Linked DNA regions of Homo sapiens. The protein of the gene in region 1 purifies or fractionates together with the protein of each later gene. This does not show direct contact. Each region holds a gene or a part of one and is shown on either strand. Other genes may lie near its edges.

Evidence for each region. The genes of interacting proteins can lie anywhere in the genome.
Region 2: the proteins of MCOLN3 (region 1) and ABHD16A purify together in Homo sapiens (affinity purification with mass spectrometry; 3 studies listed by BioGRID and IntAct, with this or other methods). This does not show direct contact.
Region 3: the proteins of MCOLN3 (region 1) and POMGNT1 purify together in Homo sapiens (affinity purification with mass spectrometry; 3 studies listed by BioGRID and IntAct, with this or other methods). This does not show direct contact.
Region 4: the proteins of MCOLN3 (region 1) and COA1 purify together in Homo sapiens (affinity purification with mass spectrometry; 3 studies listed by BioGRID and IntAct, with this or other methods). This does not show direct contact.

Annotation. Positions count from the first base shown.
Region 1 is NC_000001.11:85,031,224-85,035,393, forward strand, and holds part of MCOLN3 (mucolipin-3), read right to left. Parts: intron 3,029-4,170; coding exon 2,875-3,028; intron 1,734-2,874; coding exon 1,649-1,733; intron 1,570-1,648; coding exon 1,473-1,569; intron 1-1,472. UniProt on the Homo sapiens protein: Nonselective cation channel probably playing a role in the regulation of membrane trafficking events. Acts as a Ca(2+)-permeable cation channel with inwardly rectifying activity.
Region 2 is NC_000006.12:31,689,541-31,693,342, forward strand, and holds part of ABHD16A (phosphatidylserine lipase ABHD16A), read right to left. Parts: intron 3,610-3,802; coding exon 3,487-3,609; intron 2,379-3,486; coding exon 2,264-2,378; intron 2,141-2,263; coding exon 2,039-2,140; intron 1,777-2,038; exon of another isoform or gene 1,218-1,776; intron 1,063-1,217; coding exon 999-1,062; intron 588-998; coding exon 538-587; intron 427-537; exon of another isoform or gene 165-426; coding exon 41-164; intron 1-40. UniProt on the Homo sapiens protein: Phosphatidylserine (PS) lipase that mediates the hydrolysis of phosphatidylserine to generate lysophosphatidylserine (LPS). LPS constitutes a class of signaling lipids that regulates immunological and neurological processes.
Region 3 is NC_000001.11:46,195,286-46,199,862, forward strand, and holds the start of POMGNT1 (protein O-linked-mannose beta-1,2-N-acetylglucosaminyltransferase 1), read right to left. Parts: upstream 3,150-4,577; 5' UTR 3,051-3,149; exon of another isoform or gene 2,766-3,050; intron 2,587-2,765; 5' UTR 2,537-2,586; coding exon 2,417-2,536; intron 2,265-2,416; exon of another isoform or gene 2,077-2,264; coding exon of another isoform or gene 2,023-2,076; intron 1,800-2,022; coding exon 1,685-1,799; intron 1,565-1,684; coding exon 1,446-1,564; intron 1,205-1,445; exon of another isoform or gene 1,016-1,204; coding exon of another isoform or gene 917-1,015; intron 793-916; coding exon 727-792; intron 640-726; coding exon 526-639; intron 1-525. Other genes in the region: TSPAN1 (tetraspanin-1), read left to right, coding at 917-1,015. UniProt on the Homo sapiens protein: Participates in O-mannosyl glycosylation by catalyzing the addition of N-acetylglucosamine to O-linked mannose on glycoproteins.
Region 4 is NC_000007.14:43,642,175-43,646,041, forward strand, and holds part of COA1 (cytochrome c oxidase assembly factor 1 homolog), read right to left. Parts: intron 3,226-3,867; coding exon 3,077-3,225; exon of another isoform or gene 3,072-3,076; intron 1-3,071. UniProt on the Homo sapiens protein: Component of the MITRAC (mitochondrial translation regulation assembly intermediate of cytochrome c oxidase complex) complex, that regulates cytochrome c oxidase assembly.

The DNA.
Region 1 (4,170 bases):
TCACACCACTGCACTCCAGCCTGGCAATGGAGCGAGAATCCATCTCAAAAAAAAAAAAAAAAATACAGTGAGATGGGAGAAATAAGATCTAGTGTTTAGTAGCACAATATGGCAACTATAGTTAATAATTTATTTTATATTTCAATATAAATAGAGGAGTAGATTTAGAATATTCTCAACATAAAAAAGTGGTAAATATTTGAGGTGGTGAATGTTGTCCCAATTACCCTTATTTCATCATTACACACTGAATGCTGGCATCAAAATATCACCTGTACCCCATAAATACGTATTCGTAAAATTTTTATTTAAAAGATGCTAATAAGAACTTTAAAAAGGAAGGCAAAATACTTTTTTAAACATACAAAAGCTGAAAGTGCAGACCTGCACTGTAAGAAATGTTGCAGGAAGCCCTTCAGGCAGAAGGAAAATAATACCAGATACAAACTGGGAGCTACACACAGAATGAAGCACACTGGAAATGGTAGCTACATGGGCAAATAAAAAAATGTTTTTATTATTATTTAAATCACTTTAAAAGATAATTGACTGTTTAAAGAAAAAATAGGCTGGGCACGGTGGCTCACGCCTGTAATCCCAGCACTTCGGGAGGCTGAGGCAGGTGGATCACGAAGTCAGAAGATCGAGACCATCCTGGCTAACGCGGTGAAACCCCGTCTCTGCTAAAAAAAAATACAAAAAATTAGCCGGGCATGGTGGCGGACGCCTGTGGTCCCAGCTACTCAGGAGGCTGAGGCAGGAGAATGGCGTGAACCCGGGAGGCGGAGCTTGCAGTGAGCCGAGATCGCGCCACTGCACTCCAGCCTAGGTGACAGAGCGAGACTCTGTCTCAAAAAAAGAAGAGAGAGAGAGAGAGAGAGATTAATAACATATATTGTGGGTTTATAACACATGTAGAAATACATTATATGGCCACAATAGCATGAGGGCCAAGATGGGAGAAATGGAAGTACATTGTCGTAAGGTTCTTACACTGTGTGCAGTGGTATAACTTGAAGGTAGACTGTAATAAGTTAAAGATGTATACTACAAACCCCAAACATGGAAACATCCATGGTGAAGACACTAAGTAACAAGAACCCTTGGCAGTAACCTTTAGCTGACAGCCAGCCATAGATTGCTGAGAGCCAACCACACAGAACCTAAAAACACCTATTCCTTTTGGGTTTGAAAATCTATACCAGGCACTGTTCGTGGTACTGGAAATAGTAGTGAACAAAACAAGGTCCCTGCTTTTCTAGAACTTATACAGAGGTGTAGAAGACATAACTAACAAGTAAACTTGTTATTATAGCAAAATAGAGCTAGATGTATCAATGCTTCCCTTATGCACATTCAAGTGAAAACATCCTATATTTTTTTATCACACCGTAATCCAAGGATATGAAACATTACCAGATAAAACAATTTTTCTCCAGACTGGAACCAAATTCAGCCTGGCCCACACTTACAGTCAGAGTAAAGTCATAACAGTCAGGGAGTTCTTGATGACGAACTGTCTGCAGATTAATGGCTTTCAGTTTAAACTGAAGCTCCACTGTTAGGAGTCTAGAAAACAGAGGTGATTTTAGTTCTGTGGCAATATATACGTGCAAACGTAAGTTACACTCCTGTCTGCTCCCCTCACCTGTGGAAGTCCAGTGTTAAGTTCAGTTTATTTTCTGCTGGTGTCCCAATGTGAAAAGGTTCATCTGGCTCCACAAAGAAACACTCTGCCATAGAAAGGAACAAAAACATGATACAGTACTTAAATAAGACTGCATTTTGAAAGGCTGATACATTTAAGACCAGTTATTCAGATTCTATTATTTTTCAGATTCTATTATTTTTCTGAATTAAAATTTTAAAAGCTAAATAAACATTGATACCACATGGTTACCGTGACTCATGTGTTTTTAAGACCTAAGTGGCTACATTTCTGGAGTGGATGGAGGCTAGACAAAGATCTGAACTCTATTTCATTAATGTTATATAAATGCTGTCTTCGTTTTTAAGCCTAGATAAACTTTGAGTCCCTCCCCCTTTTTGTATCCTAAGCATAGGATTTGAAGCACTTGCAGTAATTACAGTAATATTTTCTAAGCAGTTTGAGGGATCTATTTTTAAAATATTATGCACTAACAATGTTTCTTCAATAGACATCCCACACACACACCAAAAAAGGAAGACAGCATTTTAGAAAGTTTTCCCTTTCAGTACTGTTATCAGTATTATCTCTAGAAAAAAAAATCCTAGTGGCTGTTGTTAAAAGTATTTCAATACTTATTTTTTAACTCAATGACCTAAGCTAATATTTTAGGCATAATTGCAAATAGAACTTTGCTAAGAAGAATACGCCATGCTATTCCATGTTCTGATTTTCATTCCTCCCCTTCAATCTACCCCCAAAGATGCATGATAGTGAAGTGGTATTGGGGCAGGAGAGTTTTATATATACCAAGAGTTTGCAAGCATAATGTTTTACAAACATTATATCTATCTATTAATACTTCACTGGCATATCCTGCACAAGAGATGGTGGAATACGATAGCTAAGAACACAAACAGCCTGAGCCCAATTTCAGCACTGCCTCTTCTAGCTCCATCTTTGGCAGATCATTTAACTCTCTGAGCCATAATTTAGTCTTCTATAAAAGGGGATAATAATAATCCTTGACTTGCTGGGTTTCCTTGAGGATTCTTGAGTTATAGTAAAGGGCTCAGAACAGTACCTGACACATAATAACTCGTATATCATTCTTACTATGTCCTAATATCACAGACCAAATCAATGTTTTCAAAGATGAAATTACTAATTTTAAATATAAATTGAGGTGTTAAAAATTGAGGTTCTAGGTTATAGAAGAACATCACCAGTTTCAATTTCTGGATCGATGTCAAAGGTATCATTTCCAGGGTAGATGTTTCCTCGCTTGTAGAAGTGCTGACAGATTGCCATAGCAGATTGCTTGGTACCTTTGTTCTCATAAGCATGATTCCCAACGGAGACATTGTATAGCTGCAAGTACTTCAACCAAAATGAGAAACAGAAAATGGGAATGCCAGCCAGGGCAGGAGTGAAGCCATAACTCCCCTCCCTCCCCACCTCTGATCCTGGCAGGTTCCCTTGGGATAGAGACATTCACTTTGATAAACAGGGTAAGTGACTTGCTGCTGTGCACTAGGAAGGCAAAGGGCACTCACAAATTAGAGTTCTAGATTCAAGCCTCATTTCTGTGACAAACTTTCTGACCTTCTAGTTCCTGATCTGTAAAATTAAAGTCTGAAGCCACATACTCTTTGCATTTCTTTCCTCCCTTAAAGAATTATGTTTAATTCAGGTGATATTCAATGTAAATACATATTTATCTTTAAACTATCTCCTGTAAGGTCAGAGTTCTACTTTAACACTGTAGTATAAGAAGTGGGATACAATTATTATAGGCTAGCCAGCAAAACCTTTTTTAAAGAAAGTATTGGTTTAACCTTTATCTTTGCAAGATTATAATTTAATCACCTTTATACCAATATTGCCTATCCTAGTGGGTCCTCTACATTTAAAAAAATTACTTTTACAAGTAAGAATCTTACGGTGCCTTGGAATAACTGTCATCTTAAATTCTTAATGGATGTCTGCAGACATGTTTCCAAAACAAAGTGTTTTTGGAGCAATATGTCTGGTACAGTTGGTCATTCTGTCACTCTTGAAATGAACAACTTTGTGTGATCGACACATAGAAAATAATTCTGCTAAAAGATATGAGTGAAGCATGCTATGACAAATGAATAAAATAATTTCTAATATGGGATGGATTTTGAGTTGGACCTTGTCAAGGTCACTAATGAGCAGTGTATTACCAAATCTGATGCCTAGTTCTCAGTCCTCCTATAACTTGACATCTCCATGGTATTTGATGCAGTTGAATGCTCCTCCTACACGGAATACTTTCTTTACTTGACTTCTGGGACACTGATTGTTTCTTCTTGGTCTCCTTTGCTGAAATCCTCCCACTGCCAACCTCTATATTTTGGCCTATCTTTGGGTTCAGGCCTTGACCTCTATCCACATTCTCTCCACAGCTGACTTCAACCAGTCCCATATTTCAAATACCACCTCTATGCTGACAGCTTCCAAATTTGCATCTTCAGCTCTGACCTTTCCACTGAATA
Region 2 (3,802 bases), on another chromosome or scaffold:
TGAATGTGTCTACAGTGGGGGATGGGAGGGAGGCTGGTACCAGTGAAGCCGCCGATGGACCAGGCGTAGATGATGATGTCCTGGGGCTGGAAGCCTAGGCGGTGGATGGCAAACTGGACCACCACATCCATGGCATTAGCCTCATTCTGCGGGAATGGCACCCCCTGCAGGAGAAAGGGCAAAGTCAGGAGTGTGTCAGCACCAAAGGCCAGCTCACCTGTCCCTCCCAACGTGGACCCCTCCTGCAGCCACCTATGACAGGCAGAGAAGGTGTAGAAGGAAGGGATGGTAGGAGAGGTTGTTCTCTCCAGAAGACGGATGTGTACAATGAGATCTACCTCCTCCTCTCCTGCTAGCCCCGCACTGTGGGGATGGGGGCATGGCTCCCAATGCTGCCTTCACAACCTCCTAGACCCCAGCCCTCAGGTGAGTGGGACGCCTTCAAGAAATCCACAGCCCCTCTCCTCCCTCCAATGGCTGACCAGAGGGAAACAGACATAATTCAGGAAAAGGAAGGGATTCCTGAGATGGTCTCACCGTGCTTCCAGCAAAGCCTGGATGATTCCAGCCCAGGACTGAATATCCAGCTGTAACACAGGGGGAGGAGGGACTGAGACCTTGTGGCCCACAGCCCTTTCTCCATCCCTGGGGGAAGGAAGAGCAGAAGTACCCCCCAGCTTAGATGCAAATAACTCCAAGCCTTCCCAGAAATAGGAGATGACACCAGAGGTTCTGAGGCAGCACAGGGAGCAGCATGTGATTGTGTGGGGTGTGTGGTGGGGGAATGGAACAGAATGAAAAGCATAATAGCTAGGGACACAGGCCAGGGGAGGGATGTAAGGTTATCAAAGCAAATGGCGAGTGGACTTTTCCCTAAAGCTGAGAGACTCAAAACCTCACCCAGAGAAAGCAGAGGCCAGGGGAGGTCAGGTCAGTGTGGGAGGCAGGGACATTCCCTTTCAAAGGGCGGAGATAAGGAGGCTGAGTCACCGTCCTACCTTCCAGGGGCGTGGAGACGCAGCCCACCTCATAAAACCCAGCATTCCCCTCACAGCAGATCACCTAGGAAGGAGGCAGGAAGGAAGGGCTGGGGGGCCAAGTTGGGACTGAAAAACTCCCTTTGGGCAGGGAGGGCAGCCCATGAAGAGCTTTGCAGGGAAGAGGAAAGGGCAGGTTTCTGTTTTCTCCAAGGGGAATGGAAGCTTCTCATTCCACAGGGTCCATAAGAGGAGAAGCAAAGGGATTACAAATACTCCTCAGAGGCTGACCTGCTCGACCACCCAGCCATGTCTTTTCCTTGGAAGATTACCAGCTGGATCTCTTTCAGGAAGGGGACTATGGAGATGTTTTTCCTTTCTCGTTTTCGGGTCTGTTATCTTCTGTGACCATTGCTATTGTGTGGTATGCTGATTGCTCTCCCTATCCCTCTCTGAGCTCCAGTCTTATGGTCAGATAAACTGTAATGCCATGGCGCCCCAAGCTGAAACCCACGAATGGTGGGATTTGCATGAACTCTCATAACAGATGGGCAGAGCCAGGACTAGAACCCAGCTCCCTAGACTCCTGGCTTAGCGCTCTTTCCACGGCTGCTTCATGGAGGTAGGAGACTTTGAGGCCAGGCTGCCTGGGTCCAAATACCAGCTCTACCACTTACTGTGAGGTCCAGGAAAGGTTTTCTGTGCCCCAGTTTCATCTCCTGTAAAATGGGCTAATATAAGCAGTACCTATCTCACGGGATTCTTTTGAGAATTAAATATATATGCTTCATATATATATGAGAATTAAATATATATAAGTGTGAAGTGCTGTCAAAGTGGTAACTATTAATATTAGTTTCTCGTCCTTGAACGTCTCTCCTACTTCATCTGTTTCTCTATCACAGGGTTTCACTACATCACAAGGTCTTTAGCGTGGAGCTAGGACATGAGATTATCCCCAGTAGTGGTTCCTTCAGGGAGGTGCTATAGCATTGGGGTCCCCAGACCTCTACTGCCTTCCTCACACTCACCCCACCTCTGGGCTCTCTGCTCCCTCTTACCAGCTTCTGTCCCTGGGGCTCAGCTGTCCCCCGCCGGTCCACAAACATGGTGTCAATCTCATTGCCATCACAGGCCAGCAGCTTTGCCCGGCGCCCATTACACTGAGTACGGAAGACGCAATGGCCAAGATGCAAGGGTCAGGAGGCCACATCACAGGGGTGGGGCGGGGTGGGTGGGGGTGAGAGGGGAGGGCTTTAGGGGATGTGCGGGCAGGGAAGCCTCACCTCTTCCACCAGTCGGGCCTGGCCCTGCAGCAGCACAGGCATGAGGGCCTTCTGCAGCAGGTACACAGAGCCTGGATACAGCATCCGGCGCCCTAGGGTGTGCGCCACCAGGTAGCTGTGGGGAACACAGGTTAACAAACCCCAACCCTGTTGAGGCCTGGGGACTGTGCTGGGGACCATCCCAGCCCTAGCACTCACAGACTGTAAGGCCTGCTTTACCCCTGACCTTCACAGCTTTACTTTCCTCTTTCAAGCCTTAATGAAATATGTACCAGGCTAGTGTTTTGCAAACTTTTCTTACTGCAACCTTTGTAAGATAAACATTTTATATTGTGGCTCAGTGCACACATATCCTGTATGTACAGAATTCTGAGAGTTTTATGATGTAACTGTCTATACATAATAAGTAAATGCAAAGTTATCATCAGATTATGATTCTGTTAAAATATAAGTACAACATATTAAAGGTCCCCAAATAAATAATGCTTTAAAAAATGATGGTTATAATTCAAAACCTCAAATATGGCTTGCCTCCCTGACTAATTAGCACACTGTCAACAACCAACCACTAAGTCCACCCTGTTCCTTGGTATTCTAGAAGCTGCCTCCTAACTCCCAGCAAAAGAAAATTCCCAGTGTCTGTTCCACTATAAGATATAGGTGGTTATTTCCGTTCCTTCTGACATCATCAGTACCCACGACTGAGCTTTATTTGGGATTTACCATGTGCTCTCAAGCACCCAGGCAAGGCAGGAGCCCTTCAGAACATGTTACCTTACTTAATCTCCTCAGCAACCTTGCAGGGCAGGTTCATCACAGGTGCAGACACTGAGGCACACAGGGGCCCGGAGCCAAGGTGGAATAACAACAGGGCAGAGGGGCCACGATGGGTACACAGATGCTACCAGAGCCTGCCCTAGCTACAAGTGTGTGTCCTCCCCACCCCCACCCCACCCCCACTGCTCCTTTTCAGCCTCACTGAAGGAGCTTTTGTTCATATCCCAGTTCTTTACTTACTACATTTGAGACTCCAGACCTCTCTGAGCCTCTTTTCTTCAAACATAAATATGGATAAAAATGACTTTGCCATAAATGATCTACACAAACCATACAGCACTAGGCCCAATGAGTGACAGCTATTTTACAATGGAGCGCCCACTCCCAGAGCACTCCTGAAATGGCCCCTCCACCCCAGTGGGCCTCTCCTCGCTGCTGTTTCCCACCTGGTGATCTGACAAGGCAGCTTCTTAACCCGGTTGAGGAGGGTGTCTGCTGTCCCCCGGTGCAGGGGCTCTGGGCGAAGCAGGGCCACACCCCGGCGGGAAGGGCCCCCTCGAGACTCCTTCCTGAGGAAGGGAAAGATGCAGGGAAGGATAGGGTCAGGAGCAGCAAGCTGGATGTCTGAGGTCTGGAGAACAGTGGGGTCTAGGAACGACATAATGGCATTGGAAGGCAGGCACTGTGACCTGAGAGGGCATGGAGGTGGGAGGGCAGAGCAGAGATTTTCTGGAATGGTTCTAAGGGGAGAGATACAGCAAA
Region 3 (4,577 bases), about 39 Mb from region 1:
TATGCCGTGTACCTTCCCACTATAGGGGCTTTGCACTTGCCATTCTTTCCACCTGGAATGCTCTTCCTCCAGATACTCACCTGGCTCACTCCTCAATTCCTCAGCTTTCTGCTCACATATCATCTCCTTGCAGGGGCCTTCTCTTTCTAAAATGTCCCCTCCCCTCTATCATTCATTATCCCCTGCTTTATTTTCTTCTTTATACAAGTTATCATTTACTAGCATTATCCACATTTACTTGGCTGTTTCTGTTGACCTCCCACTGCTGGAATATAAGCTCCATGAGGGTGGGGACTCTGTCTTGTTTCCCATTGTATCTTCAGCACCCAGAGAAGTACCTGGCATACAGCTGTTGCTCAATAACTATTTGCTGAATTAATACAAATGTTAAGGCTGAGATTGGAACCTGAGTAACCTTCCTTCAGAGAATCTTCCCACTATGTTATATGAGGGGCAGAGAAGCCGGGGCTAGAAGCAGGGTTGGAGCTAGGGAGTAGGGGTCAGGGTCAGGACAGAATAACTGACCTTGACAGTGCAGATGAGCACTCGGCCGGGCGCTACCATGTTGAGGAATAGCACCATGGCCTCATCCTCATGAGGTGAGTACGTGTCAAACACACGTTTTGCCATCACGTGGCCCTGGCAGGGGATATACTTCTGGTGAGTTGGTGTCATCAGCAAGAGCCCAGCTCCAGCCCTCTGGGTCACCCACCCCTAGAAACTCACCGTGGCCTGGTTGAGGACAATGACATGGATGCCCCGGCCCTGCTCCCGGGCCTCATCCTCCAGCACCTACACAGTGGCAGAGACAAAGTCCAGCTTTTCACTCTGGCATTCAAGGTGTCTCTGTCTTAGGGGTACTTAAAACACCAGCTGCTTGAAACATCACCTCCTGCCTATGTTTCTGTTCACACAGTTCTTTTCCAACTCAGCTCGAAGGCCACCTCTTCCAGAAAGCCTCTATAGCACTCCCATCAGAAGAGATCACGTCTTTCTACAACCCTCCCCTCCATGACTTTCATGGCTCTTAGAGCCTCTGCTGTCTCTGCTTCATCCTGGAAGTATCACAATCCTCCACCACACTGAACCCCTCAAGGTAGGGCCAGGTCTGATTACTTTCAGGTCCCCAGTGCCCAGCACAAGGCTGAGGCCAAAGAAAGGACCAGGGGATGGTTATAAAATAAATCAATGAATTGACTGCCTACTATTATGAATGATTACTTTTGAGATCCCACTACATACAAGACACTTCACAAACTTTTCATTGAATCCTGACAAGTAGAAATCATTAGTCCCAGTCTATAGATAAGGAATCGAGGACTCCAAAGTCACACAGCTAGAAACTGGCAGAGTTGCAGTTCCCACTTAGGCAGTAGACCCTGCTGCCAGTGGACCATGCCCTGAGCAGAATAGAGTGACTGTACACCAGACCCTGGCCCACTGACCGTGGTGCCATCCACTGCCACATATACTTTGCTGCGACTTGAATACACCTCTACGTCCAGGACCCGCCGGGGACCACTGCCTCTGCGCCGTGGGGGCTCCAGGCGGCCTAGGGCCTCATCTGTGGGGTACAACAGGTCATGGAGATAGTCTCCTCAGCAGAGTCTCACCGCTTAGGGTCTGCCTGCCACTCCAGCTGTGAGATCCAAGGCCCCCTACCCCATCCTTAGCCTAGCCCTACCATAGTCTTGCTCTGGCTCTGGGTCTTCATTGGCTTCACTGATGGCTCGCCGAGTGTCCAGGATCAACTTGATATTGACAATGACAGTCACCAGCAGGAAAAGCACGGCCCCTGTCTGAGGGGAGGGGTAGGGATGATTAAGAGGAGCACCTCCTTCAGATCCTAGAGGGTCTTTCTGAAAGGAGGGCCCTGGCTGCAGTGAAGACATCCAGAGAAACTGGGTCCTGTCCCTTCCTCTGTCTGCCTAGCTCTACTCCCCTGACCAGGGCCTAGTTTCACAGCCACTTTCCCCAGGGAACCTCCCCTGACACTTCCCCCTCCATTAGGGCCCTCCCTACCCAGTGCTCCTGTATTCTTCTATTTGAGACCTTGATTTCCTTGGTCCCCTCCATTGTTGGTTTCTAGAGATGGAGCCAGGCCCAGGGACCCAAGCGGGGGATCAGACCTGGGTCCTGGCCCTAACTGCCTCACAGGGGTGTGCCTCTCTGCAAAGCCAGCCTGATCAGACTTCAGGCTTCCGTCAGAAGCTTAGAAGTTGTACTTGGGTTCCGATTCCAGAACTTTGGGTTCAAATCATTACCTATAGGGACATGACACATAGAGGTCTCCCCTCTAGGAACCTGCTGCCCCTTTCCCACTGGGGCTGGCCAACAGGGGTCCCAGTGCCTGATTTAGGTGGGGAGGAAGCTGGGAGGGAGCGCTCGGTGGGGAGGGTTTGGGACATCTCTATACCTGACAGAATCTCCGCAGGGCCCGCTGGTTTGTCAGTTTATACTTCCAGGTAAGGTACCAGCTCCGCTTCTTCCGAGCCCCAAAGGGCTTGATGAGGGGGCTGGGCTTCCAGTCGTCCATACCGGATTGGCGGGTCACCAATGTCCTGGCCAGCCCATGACTTCAGGAATCTGAAGGGACCAGAGGGCCACATGGGGTAAGATGCTCCTCCCAAAGTCTGATGCCTTCTGGGGAGATGAGGGAGGACCTCCCAGCAACTCTTCCCTGCAAGCACCCATACTGTGTGACATGGGGAAAGTGGCTCAACTTCTCTGGGCTGGCAGGAAACCCTTCAGTGGGGTTGGATCACCTGGAAATTCCCTGAGACTGGAGTAACTCTCTGAATCAAGGCTGTCCAAGGGTGGAGGCCAAATAATCGGCTCAAAGTTCGTTAGCCCCTACAAGGACCAAGTTCCAGGCCTTCCCAAGCCTGTGGTGAGCAAAGAGCGACCTCTCCTGCCCCAGTCTTCAACCCTCGTCCCATCCTATCTGCCCCAGCTTCTCTCCTCCTCCCAGGGCCCGGAGCCGCCCGAGGGCTCAGGAGACCTGCACCGGCAGCGCTACCCGTTCCGGACACCCACGCGGAGGCACTCACGGCTTAGGGGCCCCGGGCCCCGCTCGGGCCCCGCTAGGGCCCTCACTGCTCGGCCCGGCTCGCCGCGGCCTCCGCCTCCTCCATGCCGCTTGCGGCCCCGCCCCGGCCTGGCCCGCCCCCCCGCTTCCGCCGCCGCCGCCGCCGCCGCTGCCGCGGGGTGAGAGGGCGACGGGCGGTGCTTAGGGCGGCGGCGGCGGCGGCGGCGGTGGCGGCAGCGGCGTCGGGGTGTAAGCAGCCAGCGAGTAAGGCGAATGCTCAGACCGTGCTAGGCAGCTTCGCAGCCCGGCTGGCTGGTGGGGCTGCCTGCACGAGAGCAGCCCGCTCCCCAGCACCGCCGATGGCAAGCCCGACTCCAGTCAGAGGCCTAGCACCTTGGACCAGATCACAGGGCACGCCAGGGTCAGAGGGGCTGCAACCCTTGGACACAGGGCACACACCACCCGCCCCATACCCGTCCTGGGCAAGGCCGTTACCTAGTCCTGGGGCATGCACAGCTATTGGAGGCCAAGGGAGATTAAAATCCAGGTTCTGTCACTGTTCTAAGCACCTTACTGATGATGTTTAATTCCACAACAACCCCATGAGGTAGGCGCTATTATCATTATTATTGTTTTTTTTTTAATTGAGACGGAGTCTCGCTCTGTCGCCCAGGCTGGAGTGCAGTGGCACCATCTCGGCTCGCTGCAACCTCCGCCTTCTGGGTTCAAGCGATTCTCCTGCCTCAGCCTCCTGAGTAGCTGGGACTACGGTCGTGCGCCACCACACCCAGCTAATTTTTATATTTTTAGTAGAGACGGGGTTTCACCATGTTGGCCAGGCTGGTCTTGAACTTCTGACCTCAAGTGATCCGCCCGCCTTGGCCTCCCAAAGTGCTGGGATTATGGGCAGTGAGCCACCGTGCTGGCTATAGGCGCTATTACTATCCCTGTCGCAGATAAAGAAATAAGACCTAATATCACAAAGCTAGGAGAGGTGGAATTGAAACTCAGCCTAGCTCCAGATTCTGCTCTTAACCACTGCACTCTGCTGGCAACAATACATAAGAATTGCCAGGTTTAAATAACATCATACATAGAAAGCAGTTAGCTTAACACAATGGTTCTCAAACTTTAGCTTGCGTCAGAATCACCTGGATGACTTCTTAAAACAGAGGTGCTGGGCCCCATCCCTAGAGTTTTAGATTCAGTGGTCTGGGGCAGGGTGGGATTTTGCATTCCTGAGAAGTTTCTAGGTGATGTTGATGCTTGTTTGAAGTGGATAGCCATAGAACAGTTTTAGGCAGGGGAGCAATATAATCCAATTTCTGTTTTAAGAGAACCTTTACTTTTTTTGTGGAGAATGGGTTGGAAGCAGACAGAGGAAGCCAGAAGACCAGTTAGATTTTTTTGAGCTTTCTGTATTCCATCTGCTTCCTGAATGGTGGGGTAATATCCCCCAAAATGAAATGTTAACAGTACTTGTCTTAGGAGTTAAAGAAATACATGATTTTTCCTAGTAAGTATGTATAAGAATGGAAGAAAACCCAAC
Region 4 (3,867 bases), on another chromosome or scaffold:
TATGGTGGCTTCCGCCTGTAATCCCAGCACTTTGGGAGGCTGAGGCAGGTGGATCACTTGAGGCCAGGAGTTCGAGATCAGCTGGGCAATATGGCAAAACCCCATCTCTACTAGAAATACAAACACTTAGCCGGGCATGGTGGCGCACACCTATAGTCCCAGCTACTCAGGAGAGTGAGGCAGGAGAATCGCTTGAACCTGGGAGGTGGAGGCTGCAGTGTGCCAAGATCACACCACTGTACTCCAGCCTGGGTAACAGAGCAAGGTTCCATCTCAAGAAAAAATTTTAAAAAAGAACAAATTTTCAGGGTCCCACTGTTTGAGTCAAGCTACAGCTTTTCTCTGGAAATTATAGAATTAAGCAACAGAGTATACACTGAGCATCTCTGGATGCTTTAAAAAAAAATTTAAAAAGGAAGGAGAAAGAAATGGGCAGAAGCAAGAAGGATTCTGAAGAAGAGCAAACTCTGAGGGGCCAATGTCTGAACTGTGGGCAGCTGTGCTTCCATGGGTAGATGTGACACTTTACAGGTTGGTTCCTTCACCAGCCAGACCTTGCCAAAGATTAAAGCAGGAGTTCTGGTAAAGCAAAGTGTTGGTCACTGGTGACTATCTCACACACATACTTGGGAAAAAATCCCAATGTATGACAATTACTTCATGAACAACTGAAACATCTCACCTCTGGAAAAACTGTAAAAATTGCAAATAAAGGAATTTGGGATAAGAGGGCATATGCTGTATACAGGCATCCTCACAAACCGCTGATTATAAAGAAAGGACCCTGACAGAATGTCAAAAATAGTCCACAAATTGGAAGGCGTGCACTGAGGCTCCAGGTGGCCATGATGCAGCAGACTCTGAACTCCTGTCACTGCAGAGTCACAGCATTTGGCCGCAGTAGAAGCCAGAACCTAGCACCACAACCAACATAGTCACAGCATGGCCAAGGCCCCAGGGATGTGGGGAAGCCCAGGAAGGCGCCCTCTCAGCACCACTGGGGCCAAAGTGAAAGCTGGACAGGACAAAGCTCCCACCAAAACCACCATGGCCTTACCCTACTCTCACTGGGGTTCCTGGAGCACCAGATCATGGATGCTGCATCAACCAGCCCCAGCAAAGGCGCCTTTGGCACACAATTCCTCAGTGCTACAGCTGGGCTCTGTGCTGAGAGAAACGCAACAGCCAGACCTACCCAGTGGCTTTTCCAAGTTCTCAGGATTGCTGGGGTCTAGCCAAGTGACCAAAGGCAAGGAAGCAACAGACAGGCTCCGCCACACCATGGGAGCAATCCGGTGGCCTGGCACAGAGTGAGCACTCCACACATGCCCAGCCCTTCCCTGTGCTCCTCCTCCAGGATGTCCTCTCTCACGCAGTGTCGCTGCCGTCCTTCCACTCACGTCCATGCTGGACACTGGACCATCACCTCTGACCCACCCGCTCCTGATACATGACTGTTACCAAGTTCTGTCACTTGGATGCCACGATGGCTTCACATCCGTCTTTTGCTTCTCCAGGCCACACCTCTGGTTCATGCTCTCACCACTGCACACCAGTGTGGCCACATCTCTCTCCTAAAGATGGCTCCCCGTAGCCAGTCCCTGGGCATTACCAATCTACACAAATCCACCTTCTTTTAAAACCGAATATTTTAATCAGAATACCAGAGCATGAATTGCTTTTGTAGTTAGAAAAAAGTCTCATTAGAGCTGGGTCCATTAAGAACATACTAAAAATAACAAAAAATAATGTAGGTCGGATCACCTCACTCATCCTCCAAATACTTTACGGGCTTCTGCTGCCAGAGTCAAGCACACACCTTCCAAGATGACACTGTGGCCCCTGGTGGCCGCAGCCCCTCCTACCTGCCCACACCCACCTCGCCCACCTGTGCCTCCACTGCCGTATCACACTGACAGGCGACACAGTGATGAACTTTCCCAGGCATGCTGCTCCTCAGCCGGGTGTTCCTCTCCACCTTTCAAAGTCCTCACAGCCATCTCCCAGGCCTCGAGCCACTTCCCCTAGGCCTGCACAATAGTGACAGGGTTTCCCTCACCCTGTCTTACTCAGGAATTTTCAACTGTAAACCCCCAAAAGCCTTCTGCACCTCTATTCCCCACATAGCTTAGAATCATTTCTCAAACCAGAGCATATACTCAAAATATGTTTGTTAAACAGAACAAATGTGTTTTACATGCAAGTGAGTGTGATCAAGTACAAAAAGATAAGTTATAGCTAAAAAAATGGGTTGGTATTCTGTGGAAGCAATGTAAATAAATACACTTTAAAAATCAAAGTTTAAAGAGTTGGGTACATTTGAATGAGCACTGACTGGATATAGATGCATTTCTCTTTTTTTTTTAATTTTACAGACAATTTCACTCTGTCACCCAGGATGGAGTGCAGTGACATGATCATAACTCATTGCAGCCTCCAACTCCTGGGTTCAAGCGATCCTCCTGCTTCAGCCTCCTGGGTAGCTGGGATTATAGGTGTGCACTATCACGCCTGGCTAAATTATAGATAGATAGATTAGATAGATAGATAGATAGATAGATAGATAGATAGATAGATAGATAGATAGGCAGGCAGGCAGGCAGGCAGGCAGGCAGGCAGAGAGACAGAGAGAGAGAGAGAGAGAGAGAGAGAGAGAGAGACAGGGTCTTGCTGTGTTGCCCAGGCTGGTTTCAAACCCCAGGGCTCAAGCAATCCTCTTACCTCAGCCTCCCAAAGTGCTGAGAGCTATCAAAGCCAACATGGTAGCAAACCACCACTGGTCATTTCTCTACTACCTTCAATTCAAGATGGCGACATCAGCATACCCACTGCATTCCCTGCCACATCAATTCCCCAGAATGGAAGAAAAGTATACAGAAATATCTATAATATAAAATATATTTTATATAAACATTAAAATCCATAATAGAAAAACTTTTTTTAAAGGTGCCAAACCTAGCTTTACTTAGTGGATTTTCCCATCCCAAATCCTTAACTCCAGGACTTTCCAGGAGACAGTAGACTCTCCTCTCCTTCAGCAGGCACCAGCCTGCGGTTCGCAGGGAAAGCACATTACCTTGGCATCAACAATGTCCACGAAGTTTTCCCTGTCGATGAGCTTGAGATAATGGATGTTGAGAGGAGGGCCCAGAGCTTCCTGTGCCTCGGGATGGCTCTGCAGCTGCTCCACTGCCAACTTGTAATATAAAGCCCTGGAATGAAACTCTAAGGACGAAAGACACACTTATTTTCTTTATTGAACTTGGTCAGGTAGAATCTACTACACAGAAAATTAAATAATCCAACTGACGTACAGGGTAGAAACAGAAACGTGAAATCTGTGGATGGACGAATAATTAAGGCCATCTACTCTAAATTGTCCATTTTACAGACTCAAAAACCAAAGCACAGGCAGGCAGTGTTTTGCAGGGATGTGCAGATGACCTTGGGCCTTGACCTCATGCAGACCCTTTCTGCTTCACCTCATTTCTACCCTCACTCATTGCCTTATTTTGACACCTAAGAGGTTTGGTCAGCTCTTCTCTAAGTTTCCTCTCAAGTCTCTAAGTTTGCTCTAAAGTCCTACTATGATTCCATGACTTGTTCAAAGTGACACAGCTGGTCCATGGCAAAGCCGAGGCCAGAATCCATGATACCTGACTTCTCAACACTGCCTGTTCCACTAAGTTGAGACATAAAATAGAAAGACCACAACATTAACAACAAAACCCTCAGGCCTAGAAACAGGATATGAAAATGTTCATTCATCAAGATTTAAGCCAACATTTCAACTCAAACTGCTCTCAGTCTCAGGAATCCTTCTGAGCCCACAGGCTACCTGGGAACTCCGGGAAGCACCTCCCTGAA